Regions from separate parts of the Homo sapiens genome. Here region 1 is linked to region 2. A link means that fine-mapping ties the variant in region 2 to the expression of a gene that starts in the linked region. Tissue or cell type: whole blood. Region 2 holds a variant in brackets; the other region holds the start of a gene. All regions are shown on one strand. Distances are from middle to middle.

Region 1 (7,783 bases), 26 kb before region 2:
ATGGTGGCTCATGCCTGTAATCCCAACACTTTGGCAGACCAGGGTGGGTGGATCACCTGAGGTCAGGAGTTCAAAACCAGCCTGACCAAAATGGCGAAACCCTGCCTCTACTAAAAAAACAAAATTAGCTGGGCATGGTGGTGCATGCCTGTAATCCCAGCTACTAGGGAGGCTAAGGCAGGAGAATCTCTTGAACCTGGGAAGCAGAGGTTGCAGTGAGCTGAGATCATGCCATTGCACTCCAGCCTGGGCAACAAGAGCAAAACTCCATCTCAAAAAAAAAAAAAAAAGTCAGTCTGTCATCATCAATAAACAAGTAAAATTTTGTTGGATTTTCTTAAATATTTAACTACCAGATTATGACAAAACTGTGCATATTTTAAATTGATCCTGAATCTCTATAAAAATGGCATTTGTGAAATTCCACAAATGTTAGATACTATAAGTTTAATGAGCTGTGGACTAAGAAATCATTCTGTTTTGAAATATTTAAGCCTTCCTTCTTAGTCCTGAACTAGCTAAGGAGCTGCACTTCCAAAATGCATTTAAAAAAAGAAAATTTAACCAGGGGCATATAAACAATATTATAATTGAAAATAGTATCTACCCAACTAATCAGCGTAAATTGAATTTAATGAAGGATTACTGTTATGCATTTATTACCCTTATAGGTCAATGAAATATAGTTTAGTTCAATTGGATTTTTTTTTTTTTTTTTTTTTTTAGGATAGATTCTCACTCTGTCACTCAGGCTGGATTGCAGTGGCAGGATGACAGGTCACTACATCCTTGACCTCTTGGGCTCAAGTGATCCTCTCACCTCAGCCTCTCTAGTGGCTGGGACTACAAGTGTGCACTACCACGCCCAGCTAATTTTTGTAGTTTTTGTAGAAATGGGGTTTTGCCATGTTGTCCAGGCTGGTCCTGAGTTCCTGGGTTCAGGCAATCCTCTTCTCTCAGCCCTCCAAAGTGCTAGGATTACAGACAGGCGTGAGTGCCCAGCCAGGCGTGAGCACTCAGCCAGCTTTGACTTTTGTTGGAAATAATTTTTAAGCCTTTGTCAGAAATGGCACAAAGAACTGATGTAGGAATTTACAGCCTTTTGAGAGTTATCTCCTTTATAGTCAAAAGGATACAGAAATAAAAGTTAAATTACAAAACTGATCAATATCATGTTCTTAAACATTATTTGTATCATAACTTTTAAAAAATCATGTTTCTTAGTTTTTTTAAAAAATAGAATTTTTAAAAACATTTAGCAATATTTAAAAAACTTTTGCATTATCAATCTCTGTTTTTTGTCGATTTTTAGGAAAAATATATATTGCATTATTTTTCATTGTGCTATTTGGCGTTTCTCAAAGAATGACTATGTTGTGCATGAGAATTATCTGAACTGTGAAAAATGTGGACTCACAGGTCATATTCTCATATCAAATGCTAATTTGATCCCTGGGGTTTGGATCCAAGCATCTAGATTTTTAACAAACATTGTAGATGATTTTTTCCCCTAAGGTCTGGGAACCACTGGTATAAGCGATTTTTAGCTCTTCAGACAGACATAAGATTTTGAATGCTAATTAAAATGGCTGCTAATTTGTGAATAATTTCTAATTGAACCCCAGGCAATCTAAAGAGATAAAAAATTCATTGTGAAAAACACAAATAACAGTGCAAAATAAATTGTTAATTGACCTTTTAGAATCACTAATAATATAATTGCTTTGTAGAAAACCTTTTAAAGCTGAAATTTAAAAAATATTGTTTTTAAAAATTACCAAGATAGCTACTATAAAATATGATTACATGCCATGGGATGAACTATATCTCCCCAACATTTGTATGTTGAAACCCTAACCCTCGGGCCTTTGGGAGGTGATTAGGTTTAGATGAAATCGTGAAGATTGAGCCCTCAGATGGAATTAGTGCCCTTATAAGAAATCTGAGAGCTTATGCTGTCTCTGTTCTGTCTGTCTTTCTCTCTCTCTCTGCCATTTGACACAATGAGAAAGCCACAATCTGACAGCCAAGAAGGGGGCCCTCACCACAACCTGGCCATGGCAGCCTCCTGATCGTCGACTTGCAGCCTCCAGAACTGTGAGAAAATTAATTTCCGTTAAGTCACCCAGTTTATGGTACTTTCTCAAACTAAGACACCATAGAAGTGTAAGTTTTAAAAATATTAATACATTTAGTGTTATTAATTCCTGTCCCTGCACATATAACACAATGTTCTGTTATAAAGTTAAAAACAAATTAGAATCTTCCTAATTCAGTATGTTCTAAGAAATACTACTTGACAATAATCAATAAAATAAATTTGCAAAACTTGTCAATGATGTGTCCCATGTCAAATCAAATAAAGATAGCCTTTCTTGGATAGGTTGTTGGAAAATGGTTGTATCAACTGAATTTTTCATGTTTTACTTCAGATTTTCAATTTTAAGTTTTGTTTATAGATTTGATTAAAATAAAGGTTATTATGAATAGGTTATTAATAAAGGTTATAAAGTTCTGTGCCTATGATGTGTTATAAATGGTGTGTTCAGCTTTACTAGTTAATGCTGTTGTATTTGATGTCGCTTCAGTGACCTTTTTTGTTAGTTTATTGTTACTTAAAATTAAGCAAAATCTTTCTTGCATGAAATCTTCTTGATTAATTATTGCCATATAGAATTTTCATTCACCTAATCTTTTTTTTTTTTATTTGAGACAGAGTCTTGCTTTGTTGCCCAGGCTGAAGTGCAGTGGTGGCATCTCGGCTCACTGCAACACTGCAACGTCTGCCTCCTGGGTTTAAGAGATTCTCCTGCCTCAGGCTCTGGAGTAGCTGGGACTATAGGCGGGCACCACCACCCCCCGCTAATTTTTGTATTTTTAGTAGAGACGGGGTTTTACCATGTTGGCCAGGTTGGTCTCGAACTCCTGATCTCAAATGATCTGCCTGCCTCGGCCTCCCAAAGTGCTGGGATTACAGGCGTAAGCCACCGCGCCTGGTCTCATTCGCCTAATCTTTATTGTCTACTATATTCAAAGTGTTGAGTGTGACAACAAGTCATTTAAAATTTAGTCTGGATTCTCAAGAGTTTGTAATATAATGAGGAAAAAATCCCAACGACTTTCTTTTACTCAGATCTCCATAATGTCATTTGCCATCAATAGTTTGGAATATCACTGAAGTCCAAGGGCCTGTGGCTACCCAATATTCCAAATACAATATAATTTGGTTCAAATAAGATATTAAGAACTTTGGTCAAGAACTTTGGTCAAACACAGGAGATCTGGAATCTAACGGCATGTCTTTGGCAATTCACAACCTCTCCCTCTACACGTTTCTCCATGTAGAAAGTAAAGGCCTTGGAAAGGATTGATGAAAACCAACCCTAAAACTCCACGATGCCTTTTTCTGTACTCCGAATCTAAAAGGGTGAGCTATGAAGTAAAACTCTGCACTTGGTCCAAGTCATTGAAATATTTGCAAACGATGCTAGAGCTCGAAAAGAGCAAAGATAGCAGAAACCGTCCAGAGAAAGTAACCTACTGCTGAAGCTCTGCAAACTTGAGCAGTCAACCAACTTCACCGCTCACAAACGTTTGGCCGCTAGGCATTGTGACTTTCTGCCCAGATAAAAGTCTTTTTTTCTTTTGTCTCCTTTTTTTCTTCCTCCCTGCTTTGCCGCGTGAGATTACCACTCCTCGGGTCAGCTCGCGAACGCCAGGGAGGCGAGTGTGAAACACACGCGCCAACACCCCTCCTCCTCCTCGTGCGCTCCTCCTTCCTACAGAAAAATGTGTTTCTAGGCAACGGCGGGCGGCGGCGTCACTTCCTGCCATTTAAACTCAGGTCCCCACCCCTCGCAGCCCCTTCTCCTCGTTTCCACCCCTCCCCCCTCGGTCGTGGGCCTCATTCACGCTTCCCCGGGCTTGGGGAGGGGGCGGAGGCCCGGCGTGACAAGCGGCCCAGACTCCCGTGGGCGCCGCACACCTGTTGTTTGCAGCAGCCAGCGACCCGCACTACCGCTCTCGGCGGGCGGGGAAGCGGCCGCAGCGGAGCCGACCCGGCAGGTGGCCGCGGGCGGGGCCGGCGAGCGAAAGTGCGCGGGGGCCCGACCACCGCGGGGCCGGGACGCGATGGCGGCGGCAGAGCCCGCGAGCTCGGGCCAGCAGGCGCCGGCAGGGCAGGGGCAGGGCCAGCGGCCGCCGCCGCAGCCTCCGCAGGCGCAAGCCCCGCAGCCGCCCCCGCCGCCGCAGCTCGGGGGCGCCGGGGGCGGCAGCAGCAGGCACGAGAAGAGCCTGGGGCTGCTCACTACCAAGTTCGTGTCGCTGCTGCAGGAGGCCAAGGACGGCGTTCTGGATCTCAAAGCGGTGAGCTCCGGAGGCGGGGACGGGGGCGGACTTCGGAACCCGTGGCCCCCGGGGAAGCCCAGCCCCTCGCCGCGTGGGTCTAGCGGCGTGGTGTAGACGCGCCTTGCGGGGACCCGGGACCGGGCAATCCGAGGACCATGTGGCCTGCGCCCGGGTCGTGGACGCCGGGATGGGGGAGGGACGAGGGACCAGGATGGCACCGAGCGGACGCGTAACCAATGGGGCCCGGCGCCACGCTGGGCTCTCGACAAAGAGCCCAGGACCTCGAGCGCGCCCGCGTGGCTTCTGTCTCCGGGCGCAGGGACCTGAGGGTAACCGAGTGTCTGTTGCTCTGCGTCCACCTGTGGCAGAGGCTCACGGGGTAACGGGCGCTTTGCCCGGAGACACCGTGGATATCGATTTTGCTGTTAAGAATGGATGGTTTTAATAGGCGATTCCAGTTGGAACCATGTTCCTGTAGTTTAAATAAAAAGGAGGAAAAACAAAACCCAGTCTGCCATCTCTACCAGATGAAAGAAAAAAAAAAAAGAGTACTTCTTTCCACGCCCCTCCCCGATAAAATAGTATTAAATCTTCCTTGTGCACTTCTTTCATCACCCTGATAGTTAGGAGGGGTATTTGATTTGTGACTTCATTTGGCATGTGTCATGGGTTTCCAAAAGTGAGATCTGCTGTCACACGAAAAGGGGATATTTTACAACTTTCACCCAAAGAGGTGGAAGTGCTCAGTAAACTCTCTCCCTGCGTCGTCCTTTACAGCGTTCAGATTTTTCAAACAGGAGCAGGCATCAAAAGCTGTTCTGTCATACAGAATGACTTAACCGATCTAGGAAGGATTTGGAAGAATTCAACAGCGCTCAGGATAATGAGAATGTGGTCACTCCGCGCGAAGTTTAAGAACTAAAGTTTTAGAAACAAACAAACAAAAAACACTAACTGCCCAATAATCACTGCAAATCCCCTTTGACTCCCTAAATGTGGCCTTACTTGGAGGATTGGCCCCAGCTCCCAGGGGAGTGCCTGGACCACCTTACCTGGCTTGAGAGTGTCACTGCATCCTCAAGGCTCTGCATAAAGCAGTGGCAGCTCCCTGAATGTAAGGACCAAGACTTGCAGGGGCCAACTCTTCTGCTAGAGGCCCTCCTCCAGTGTAGCCCAAGGGGAAGTAGATCTTTTCAGTGCCCTCTCCTTTCCCTGGATGTAGTTGGTGTTCAATCAGTGATTGTTGAACTGAATTACCTAAATTGTTCAACTTCATACAACTGAGGCATGCTGCACATATTTTGCATTTTGGTAAGTAATTTCTACTATTTTCTTTTTGATATGTTATTCCTGGAATTTTTTTCCCACCTCTGGAAATTCCTTGTTCTCTTTTTTCCACCACAGCCCCTTCTTCCTTTCTCTCCCTGAAAGTGATTTATGGCATGTGTAGTATTTAAATTGTAGTGAATTAAAATGGATTCTGTTTAAAGAATTTCACAGGAAGTCATGAAGTTATCAGAGAAAGCCAGGAATGTTACAAAGCACAGGTGGCAAACTGCTGTTCAAAATCTAGAAATTCAGCTGTAGCCTGTGACTTTGGTGTAAGAAAATCAGGGAAGTTTGGGGTTTTCCAGGTAAAACTGAACTCTGACGGCTGGACTTTGAGGGCTTCTCCCTCAGCTTGCCTCAGGATATGGTGGAACTTTGCCCTTTCTTGACTTGAAATTCTTTAGCTTCCTCCTGTTTCATCTGTGGCTATATAATTGCCCTACAGAAGTCACAGAGGCAGTGAGTAGGATGTAAAGTTTGGTATTTCATGACAATAATTGCTTTATTCATTCTGGAACTCTCCTAAAAATTCAAAGGTTTCTACAATAACACTGTCTCATTATATTAATGACTTCATACTCCTAGAAAAGAGTTTGAATGTCTTTAGTTTTCATATATATGTATGAAAAACATATGTTTTATGTATTTTACGTATATTTTTCATTTATTTATATATACTTATATATGTAAAAATCTTTTTTTTTTCTTTTTTGAGACGGAGTCTTGCTCTGTCGCCCAGGCTGGAGTGCAGTGGCGCGATCTGGGCTCACTGCAAGCTCCGCCTCCCGGGTTCACGCCATTCTCCTGTGTCAGCCTCCCGAGTAGCTCGGACTACAGGCGCCCGCCAGCGCACCCAGCTAATTTTTTTGTAATTTTAGTAGAGACAGGGTTTCACTGTGTTAGCTAGGATGGTCTCGATCTCCTGACCTTGTGATCCACGCGCCTCGGCCTCCCAAAGTGCTGGGATTACAGGCGTGAGCCACCGCGCCCGGCCAAAAATCTTACATTGAAATCTTTCCAATGATATTTCTTATTATACACCATAGTAAAAGATCGTTAAAGCCTTTTTTTTTTGAGACTGAGTCTTGCTCTGTCACCCAGGCTGGAGTGCAGTGGCAGATCTCTGCTCACTGCAACCTCCACCTCCCGGGTTCAAGCGATTCTCCTGCCTCAGCCTCCCAAGTAGCTGGGATTACAGGTGCCCGCCACCATGCCCGACTCATTTTTGTATGTTTAGTAGAGAAGGGGTTTCACCATGTTGGCCAGGCTGGTCTCGAACTCCCAACCTCAAATGATCTGCTTGCCTCAGCCTCCCAGAGTGCTGGGATTACAGGCGTGAGCCACCATACCCAGCCCATTAAGACATGTTTGATAATACATATTAAAGATGGACTCACACTGACAATTATAAATTTCCTCTAATTTGAAATTATAAAGACACATTTTCTCTTGTATTCTTACTTTGGTGGGGGCATATTTCAGCATAATTTTTTTGAAACTTTTAAGTTATACACTTGACTTTTAAACGCAGTTAAAGAAACTATACATATATATATATATATATATATATATATATATATATATATATATGGTTTTTTGGTTGGTCTTGTTTTTTTTTTTTTTTTTTTTTGAGACAGAGTCTCGCTCTGTGGCCCAGGCGGGAGTGCAGTGGCGCAATCTCGGCTCACTGCAAGCTCCGCCTCCCGGGTTCATGCCATTCTCCTGCCTCAGCCTCCCGAGTAGCTGGGACTACAGGCACCCGCCATCACGCCCGGCTAATTTTTTTTGTATTTTTAGTAGAGACGGGGTTTCACCATGTTAGCCAGGATGGTCTCGATCTTCTGACCTCGTGATCCGCCCGCCTCGGCCTCCCAAAGTGCTGGGATTACAAGCGTGAGCCACCGCGCCCGGCCGGTCTTGTTTGTTTTTTGAGACAGGGTCTTATTCTGTCGCCCAGGCTGGAGTGCAGTGGTACAATCTCAGCTCATTGTAACCTCCACTTCCCGGGCTCAAGTGATTCTCCTGCCTCAGCCTACCAAGTAGCTGGCACTACAGGCGTACACCATTATGCCTGGCTTATTTTTATATTTTTAGTAGAGACAGGGTT
Region 2 (7,783 bases):
ATATTAAAGCCCCAAATTAGTTTTTAAAGAATTCACACACAACTTTTTCAAACACTATATAAAACAAGGTAAATCTGTATACACACAAACTTTAACCAATCTTAAACACAGTCTTACCCACGATCCGTTTCAACCTGTATTTGATGATGAGGCTGACTAGCCAACATTTAAGTAATCACTATACAGTAGACATTGCGGTAAGATTATCCAGTTTAATTCCCACAATACTCCTTTCAGTATATGTTATACCATTTTATGAAAAAGGAAATGAGGCTTAGTGAGCTTACGATGAGGCCAGCTGAAGATAGGAAGTGGCAGCCCTGGGACTGGATCTCAGTGTGTTTAGCTTCAGAACTTCTTAAGAATGATGGGACTGGCTGGGTGCCATGGCTCACACTTGTAATCTCAGCACTTTGGGAGGTCGAGGTGGGTGGATCATCTGGGGTCAGGAGCTCAAGACCAGCCTGGCCAACATGGTGAAACCTCGTCTCTACTAAAAATACAAAAATTAGCCAGTCGTGGTGGTACACACCTGTAGTCCCAGCTACTTGGGAGGCTGAGGCAGGAGAATCAGTTGAACCCAGGTGGTGGAGGTTGCAGTGAGCCAAGATCACACCACTGCACTCCAGCTTCGGCAAGAGAGGGAGACTCTGTCTCAAAAAAAAAAAAGAATGATGGGACTTTCTAAAATAAAACCCTCCTGGAGATTCTTTTACATATGATCTGTACATGTTAGTCATTTATATGTTTACATACTTAAATAGTAAAGTATTTGAGAAATAATGTTTAGTTTTAGAAACTAGGGGTTAAATGTTGTGATTGTTAAGCAGTAATAAATATAAATGATAAACAAGACACCTTTTTAAAACTTTGAGCTAAAAATTAAATCTCATGGCACTTTGCCTAATGACCTAAGCTAGATCTTGTGGTCTGGTTCATACAAACATGTTCTGATACCAAAACCAGAGTGCTGTTGCTATGGCTGTGAATGCTTTTCTGTGTGAGTACATAGATACCAGTAACACAGAGCCATGGCTTGGAGTTCTCTGAGTTACTTCTCTAGAGAGAGGAAAGTGAGAAATGAAACCTCAGCTTCAGATTTGTACCGTTAACTTTGCAGTCGTGTATTGCTCTTCATAAAAACAGCCTCGAAGTCAAGAGTAAAAATTCTGTGAAGGTCGATAAAACAAGAAGGGAATTGCTAAGTACAAGGGAAGAAGGTATCAATGAAACAAACCATGGCTAGTCCTGCTGTTAATTTTCTGGTTCTCTAGAAGGGACAGTGCCAAGTTAGAGTTGGGGAACAAAGAGCCCCACTCTCCTGCTTTTCCTTCTTCTGCCACATCCTGCTTATTCTCCTGGTCCACTGAGGCATGAATCCCCTTCTTGAGGAAGACCTGAATGATGGGACAGCAGTAACCTGGGGGTTTTGGTGGCACATACAAAAAAATGTGTCTGAGAGAACTGACATTTCTCTTAAGATCCCAAATGCCTGTACAGTGAATATAGCTGTCAGTGGCACCTTCTCTGGGGGGAAGGCAGGTCCAGATTGCAAACACTGTGCTGAGCTAGGTTTTCACAGAATCAAGAAAGTAGTGATGCTCTCTGGGAGAGCTGTTAGCAATTATGCGAAGCTGGGAGAGCTGTTAGCAATTATGTGAAGCTAAATCCTGTTCATTTAGATATTTTAGATAATGTGCTGAAAATTGTCAGTAGAGACACAAATATTTGTAACTACCATGGATCTTAAAATGTGGCTCCACATTCAAAATAGGCTATTGTCTAATCCACTCTGAAAACTTCTTTGAGGTTCTCTTTGTTCTTTTGGGAACACACATCAAAAATGTGAATTGGAACTAATCAGAGGAATTGTTTGTTGAATTCATAACATGATAGCATATATTGTTTTGTTGATCTTATCTAATGTGAATGCAGCTACCAAGTTTTTGTATAATAGTTGCTAGTGCAATCTTGAGCTATTGATTCTGATTTCTTGCTGATTTTATGCTTTGTGTTAGGATGGCATGATTCATTCCTCTGTTTTCGTTATTAATTTAAAAATGTAGATATTTATTTCAAGGTATTATAAGTGTGCATATAGTTCAGAATTTCCAAGTGTCTTAATTACCAAAATAAATTGCTGAGATGTAATTCTTTAAAATTTTAAAAAATAAGTAATGCATCTTTAGATGAGACTGTTTATGAACAGAGAAATAAGATAGGAGGTGACATGGATAGGCAATTAGTAGCTCCTCCTCAGGATTAGTCCATAAGGTGACACAAAGTATTCTTATTGTGTTCTTTTATTTTTGCAGGCTTTGTGTCATGACCTTAATTTCTTTTTCTGTTCCAACATCTGCTAGCTTTTAAATGGAATAATTTCTTTGGTATTTGCAGTGTTTGGGAGATGCTTTGAACATGCTCAGCTATTGTCCCCAAGCAACTGAGTGGGTCAAATTTGAGATTGGACTTGTTGTGGATTTAATAATCAACCCTTTTTGGCTTTAAAATATGACTTGCCCTTTATTTCACTGTTCTCGTTGTCTTTCCTGAACAGGCTGCTGATACTTTGGCTGTGAGGCAAAAAAGGAGAATTTATGATATCACCAATGTCTTAGAGGGAATTGACTTGATTGAAAAAAAGTCAAAAAACAGTATCCAGTGGAAGTAAGTTACAAACCAGCACCCTCTTCTGAAACCTTTTTTCTTCTCAGTGCTCTGTAAAATTTGACCTTCCCAATGTTTCTATCTCCCAAATCCTCTATTTCAGTCAGGCCCCTCAGCTTTCCCTGAACACACCTTTCTGGGCCTCTGTGTCACTCCTGTGTTGGGTGTTCCCTTGCTCTCTTGGATATTGGGTTTTCGCTCTTAAAATTCAAATCTTACTTTCTCCCTCAAGCTATTACTCATTTGGCACACATTGCATACTGTCTTGTATTAATCTCTTCCTAACTCTTTACCTGTCCTTGAGAGCAAGAACTACTTTCATAGGAATTTGTACTTTGTAAATAGTAATTAATTGAAACGCATGTTGTCATTAATTGTGGCCTGGTTATACGTTTGAATGTAACAATTTCTGTTCTTCTAATGTGTCCCCTTTGACCATAGTTTTTGTCTTGTTTTGTTTTCGCCAAAATTCCACCAAAACATTAAAATGTTGTAATTTATTTTACCAGCACCTCAGTCACATCCTGAGACTGCTAGGTGTGACTGCTGAGCACACTCTTTTGGTACCCAGTCACCAACCAGTCTGGCCTTCCAGATGACAAAAAAACACTGTAGGGAAGATTGAGAATTTTTGTAATTTGGTTGTTCTTGTCAATAAATTTTCTAAGCAAGAAGTATGGTGTTTAAAATTTTTAAGGATTTTAGTGCTTGATTTTAAGAGTGTAAAGACTTCTGTCTTGAATATATTACTAAATAAGTCAGTTTTATTACAGTAAAAATTAAGTGATATTAACCTAGATCTGATACTGAGGATATTAATTCTCATATGTTTTTAAGAGGTGTAGGTGCTGGCTGTAATACTAAAGAAGTCATAGATAGATTAAGATATCTTAAAGCTGAAATTGAAGATCTAGAACTGAAGGAAAGAGAACTTGATCAGCAGAAGTTGTGGCTACAGCAAAGCATCAAAAATGTGATGGACGATTCCATTAATAATAGATATCCTTTTAAATAAGTTATGCATATACATATAGCTTTGGAATATGTATGTATAAATCATTTCAGTCTAAAGATCATTCACTTTGTTTTTAGACAGTTAAGTTTTATAAGTAAATATGACATTTTAATTTTATTATATTCTTATATACTAATATTTTCTAAATGTTACCTTTTTAAGTTATATAGTACAGATCCGTTAGCGTTATTCCTGTGTTGCACTGAGGGGGAAAAAGAGATTAGCCAACTTTTGGTCTACCAATTGATAGAATGCAGTATGCTAGCCAGTGTGCTTAGGAAATCTGTGAATATTAGAAGCCATTGTTAAGTACATTTGTATTTTTAAATAATTATGTTCAGTGTTCTGAAGTATAAAATTCAGCAGCTCTCAAAGTTTTGAAAATTTTTCGTTTAAAGATGAGATATGATGTGTCCACAATCAATCCTTGATACTTTCTGCCTAACATGAACCCCAAAATAGTTCCTACTGGAGAACAGGGGTCTAAGTCGTGTGTGCCTATCAACAATATATATTGGGGGAAAAACATTATTATATATAATACATATAATATCATATATAATATATAAAATATATTTATATATAATATATAAAAACATTATTATATATATAAAAACACATATCCATGTGTTTCTTACAAACCACCGTCTTCTCTCAGGTATCTGTGATTCTCTTAGTTTATGAACTTACCTGTACTCTTAAAGAAACTAACCACATTTTACCTTGTAGCACCTCATGAAATTTTGACTAATGTATACAATATAATTTACTTTTCACATTTTCATGTATTTGGTGAACAAGTCCATGATCTCATTTGTTATTTCCTTTGTATGGATCAGAGCCCCTTAACAGTTTGAGAACAATGGGAGTTTTCAAGCTGTGTTCTGTGGAGCTCTGAAATTCAAAAGCCATTAATCTATTTTATCTTGGACTT[C/T]GCTGCCCTGCTTTACGAGATGCTGGCCATTCCCATTGCCCCAACCATGGTTATGTGTGATATATATAAAGTTTTCTGTATATTATGGTATTTTGACATCTCCATAAACCTTTCTGGCTGAGGAGAGACTGCCCATCCTGGGACTAGCCACTTCTTAGAAACAGCATGGGCTCATGTCCTTTTTAGGGTCATGGATGACGCTGGAAACCATCATTCTCAGCAAACTATCGCAAGGACAAAAAAACCAAACACCTCATGTTCTCACTCATAGGTGGGAATTGAACAATGAGAACACATGGACACAGGAAGGGGAACATCACACACCAGGGACTGTTGTGGGGTGGGGGGAGGGGGGAGGGAGAGCATTATGAGATATACCTAATGCTAAATGACGAGTTATTGGGTGCAGCACGCCAACATGGCACATGTATACATATGTAACAAACCTGCACGTTGTGCACATGTACCCTAAAACTTAAAGTATAATAATAATAAAATTAAAAAAAAAGAAACAGCATGGGCTCAGCCAGGAGCATCCCTTTGATATATAAACTAACCAGTCAAGGTCCAGACCTCCTCTCTCCAGTCCATACACCCCAGGTGGCAATATTCCTCTGCCTTAATCATCCCAGGGTCAGGTACCAGACAACTGGGGGACTACCTGCATAGCTTAGAGCCCACCAAAATTATCCAAACTAGGCCAAATGCAGTGGCTCACGCCTGTAATCCCAGCACTTTGGGAAGCCAAGGTTGGCGGATCACCTGAGGTCAGGAGTTTGAGACCAGCCTGGCCAACAGGGTGAAACCCTGTCCGTACTAAAAGTACAAAAACTAGCTGGGCATGGCAATGTGCATCTGTAATCCCAGCTACCAGGGAGGCCATAGGAGAATTGCTTGAACCCAGGAGGCAGAAGCTGCAGTGAGCCAAGATCACACTACTGCACTTCAGCTTGGGCGATAGAGCAAACTCCGTCTCAAAATAAAACAAAACAAAATTATCCAGACTAGCTAATCGTAGTGTTCTCCCCACCCTGCTTTTTTTTTTTTCCTGAGATGGAGTCGCTCTGTTGCCCAGGCTGGAGTGCAGTGATGCGATCTTGGCTCACTGCAACCTCCACCCCCCGGGTTTAAGCAATTCTTCTGCCTCAGCCTCCAGAGTAGCTGTGATTACAGGTGCTCACCACCATGCCCTGCTAAGTTTTGTATTTTAGTAGAGATGGGTTTCACCATCTCTAGACTAGACTTCTTTTTTTATCTGTCCATGTGTGGCAGCCCCTCTGTGCATATGGTCAGGCTGGTCTTGAACTCCTGACCTCAAGTGATCCACCTGCCTCGGCCTCCCAAAGTGCTGGGTGGCGTGAGCCACCATGCCCAGCCACCCTGCATTTCTTTTCCCAAGGAAACCCCAATAAAAGCTCTGGGCTAATGCTTTCCCCTTGCTCCTGTCTTCTGCCTCCTGACCACCTTGTTGTCTTAACCATGTGGCCCTGAGTAGCCTGCCTTGCCTCCCGTCACTAGGACCTATGAGTATAATACTTTGTTTTTCTGAGCCTTTCTTTAATCCTCTGTGTCCTCTTGTGGCCATACCTGACCATTTAATACAAGAACAAAAAACAACGATCACAGAAAATTCCTGATGTGGAAGCTGATATGGTTGCTGATGGCCTCCTTTTCCCCATCCATTCCCTTCCCCCAGAAACCTTTGCCTCCATGAAGAATGTGCACTGCTTTCCATCTCTCTCCTAAGGGTCCTCAAATGTCACAAAAATCAGAATGGCTTCTTCTAAGAGCAAAGGATGGGAACTCCTTTGTCTTTACCTTTCTAGACTAGACTTCTTTTTTTGTCTGTCCATGTGTGGCAGTCCCTCTGTGCATATGGTCATTTAGTTATTTTGACCTTCAGATGTATTACCTTAATTTAAATGCCTACGGCTTGATATAAATGTCGTTCCTTAACTCCTATGACAGTACATTTTCCTATGTAACTCATGAAGACATCTGTAATTGCTTTAATGGTAAGTACCATTAGACTTTTCCTTGCATTCTTCCTCTCAACCTATTTAGTGGAGGGTGATTCAGAATTCCCTGTGTCCTCATCCTGTCATTATTTTCAGAAGTTGTGGGCATTGTGTCTCACTCCACCATGCCGTGTATTGATAGACTGCTTTTGTTTCTGTTTTCATGAGAATAGCTGCTTTTCACAGCATTCAGTTCATTAGCTCCACTGGTAGGGATCAACTGTGTGTGGAAGGGGAAGGGGACAGGGACAGAGGGCAAGCTAAATCAGAGCGGGATTAAGCAACTTTCATTGTCACACAGTCACAGAGTTAGTGACCAAACTTGAACTAGAACATGGTTCTCATCAGCATTGTTTATCAAACTATATGCAAGTATGCTGGTCTCAAATGAAACTCAAAGAAACCATAAGGAAAGAATTAGGTGAATCCATCTTATAACCAGGAAACCTATTCCTATGCAATTTGCTGCCCCTGTGTTTTCTCCTTAAAATAACAATATCATGTTAATAATTATAATTATTAATATAACTAAAATGGGGGGACGTGTGTTCCCAAAATTATAGCACAAGTAAAATGAAATTGTGCATATTTAAATTTATGTGTATTATCCACCTATTTAAAAAGATTCTGCCAAGTACCTCATCAAGTGGAATCTGACTTTCTATGTAAGACTATGTTGGAAATAAGTATAGGACTATTGTTCTATTTTACCACTGTATTTCCTGAGTTTTTTAAGGAAGTTTGCTGAGACTTCTGTTAATCTGCAACTCAACAGAGATTTGTTGTAGAATTTGGCTTCAAAAATAATAAAATCATTTAAGCTCAACATTTCAGTGTCTCATACCTAATCTCCACTATCCTCAGTCCAATGAACAGTGTTATTTGAGGCTAAATGGTCTTAAGAATCTCAGACTTTACAGGAGTCTTAGTCAAAGCAAAATCAACTTGAGCTGAATTTGTTAATGAGAATCATACAGCTAACCCATGTATAATACTAATACATGTATTATCTTATTTAATCCTCAAAATAAATCTATGCAGTAGGTTGTGTATCCCCCATTTTATAGAATTGAAAATCAAAGCTCAAGGTCACCTAGTTTGGGATTGAACCAAACACTCTGATTCCAGAGCCCACATTCTTGCCACTGT

What was found. PIP is the estimated chance that this variant, and not a neighbour inherited with it, causes the effect.
Region 1: E2F5 starts here. The variant in region 2 is fine-mapped to the expression of E2F5 in whole blood (TOPMed, PIP above 0.99).

Annotation. Positions count from the first base shown.
Region 1 is chr8:85,173,290-85,181,072 of GRCh38, forward strand. It overlaps E2F5 (E2F transcription factor 5), which reads left to right and starts at 3,865. Exons shown (of 8, transcript NM_001951.4): 1 at 3,865-4,365. The coding sequence starts at 4,132. E2F5-DT (E2F5 divergent transcript) reads right to left here and starts at 3,752. Exons shown (of 3, transcript NR_134311.1): 1 at 3,542-3,752. RefSeq lists an enhancer at 3,526-3,695 and silencers at 3,796-4,325, 4,336-4,725.
Region 2 is chr8:85,199,590-85,207,372 of GRCh38, forward strand. E2F5 (E2F transcription factor 5) reads left to right here. Exons shown (of 8, transcript NM_001951.4): 2 at 2,558-2,667; 3 at 3,505-3,666; 4 at 6,588-6,631. Among named protein-coding and RNA genes, the nearest start is that of RBIS, 17 kb to the right of the region's middle. RefSeq lists a silencer at 1,011-1,070. The variant C/T (reference allele first, on the strand shown) is at 4,617.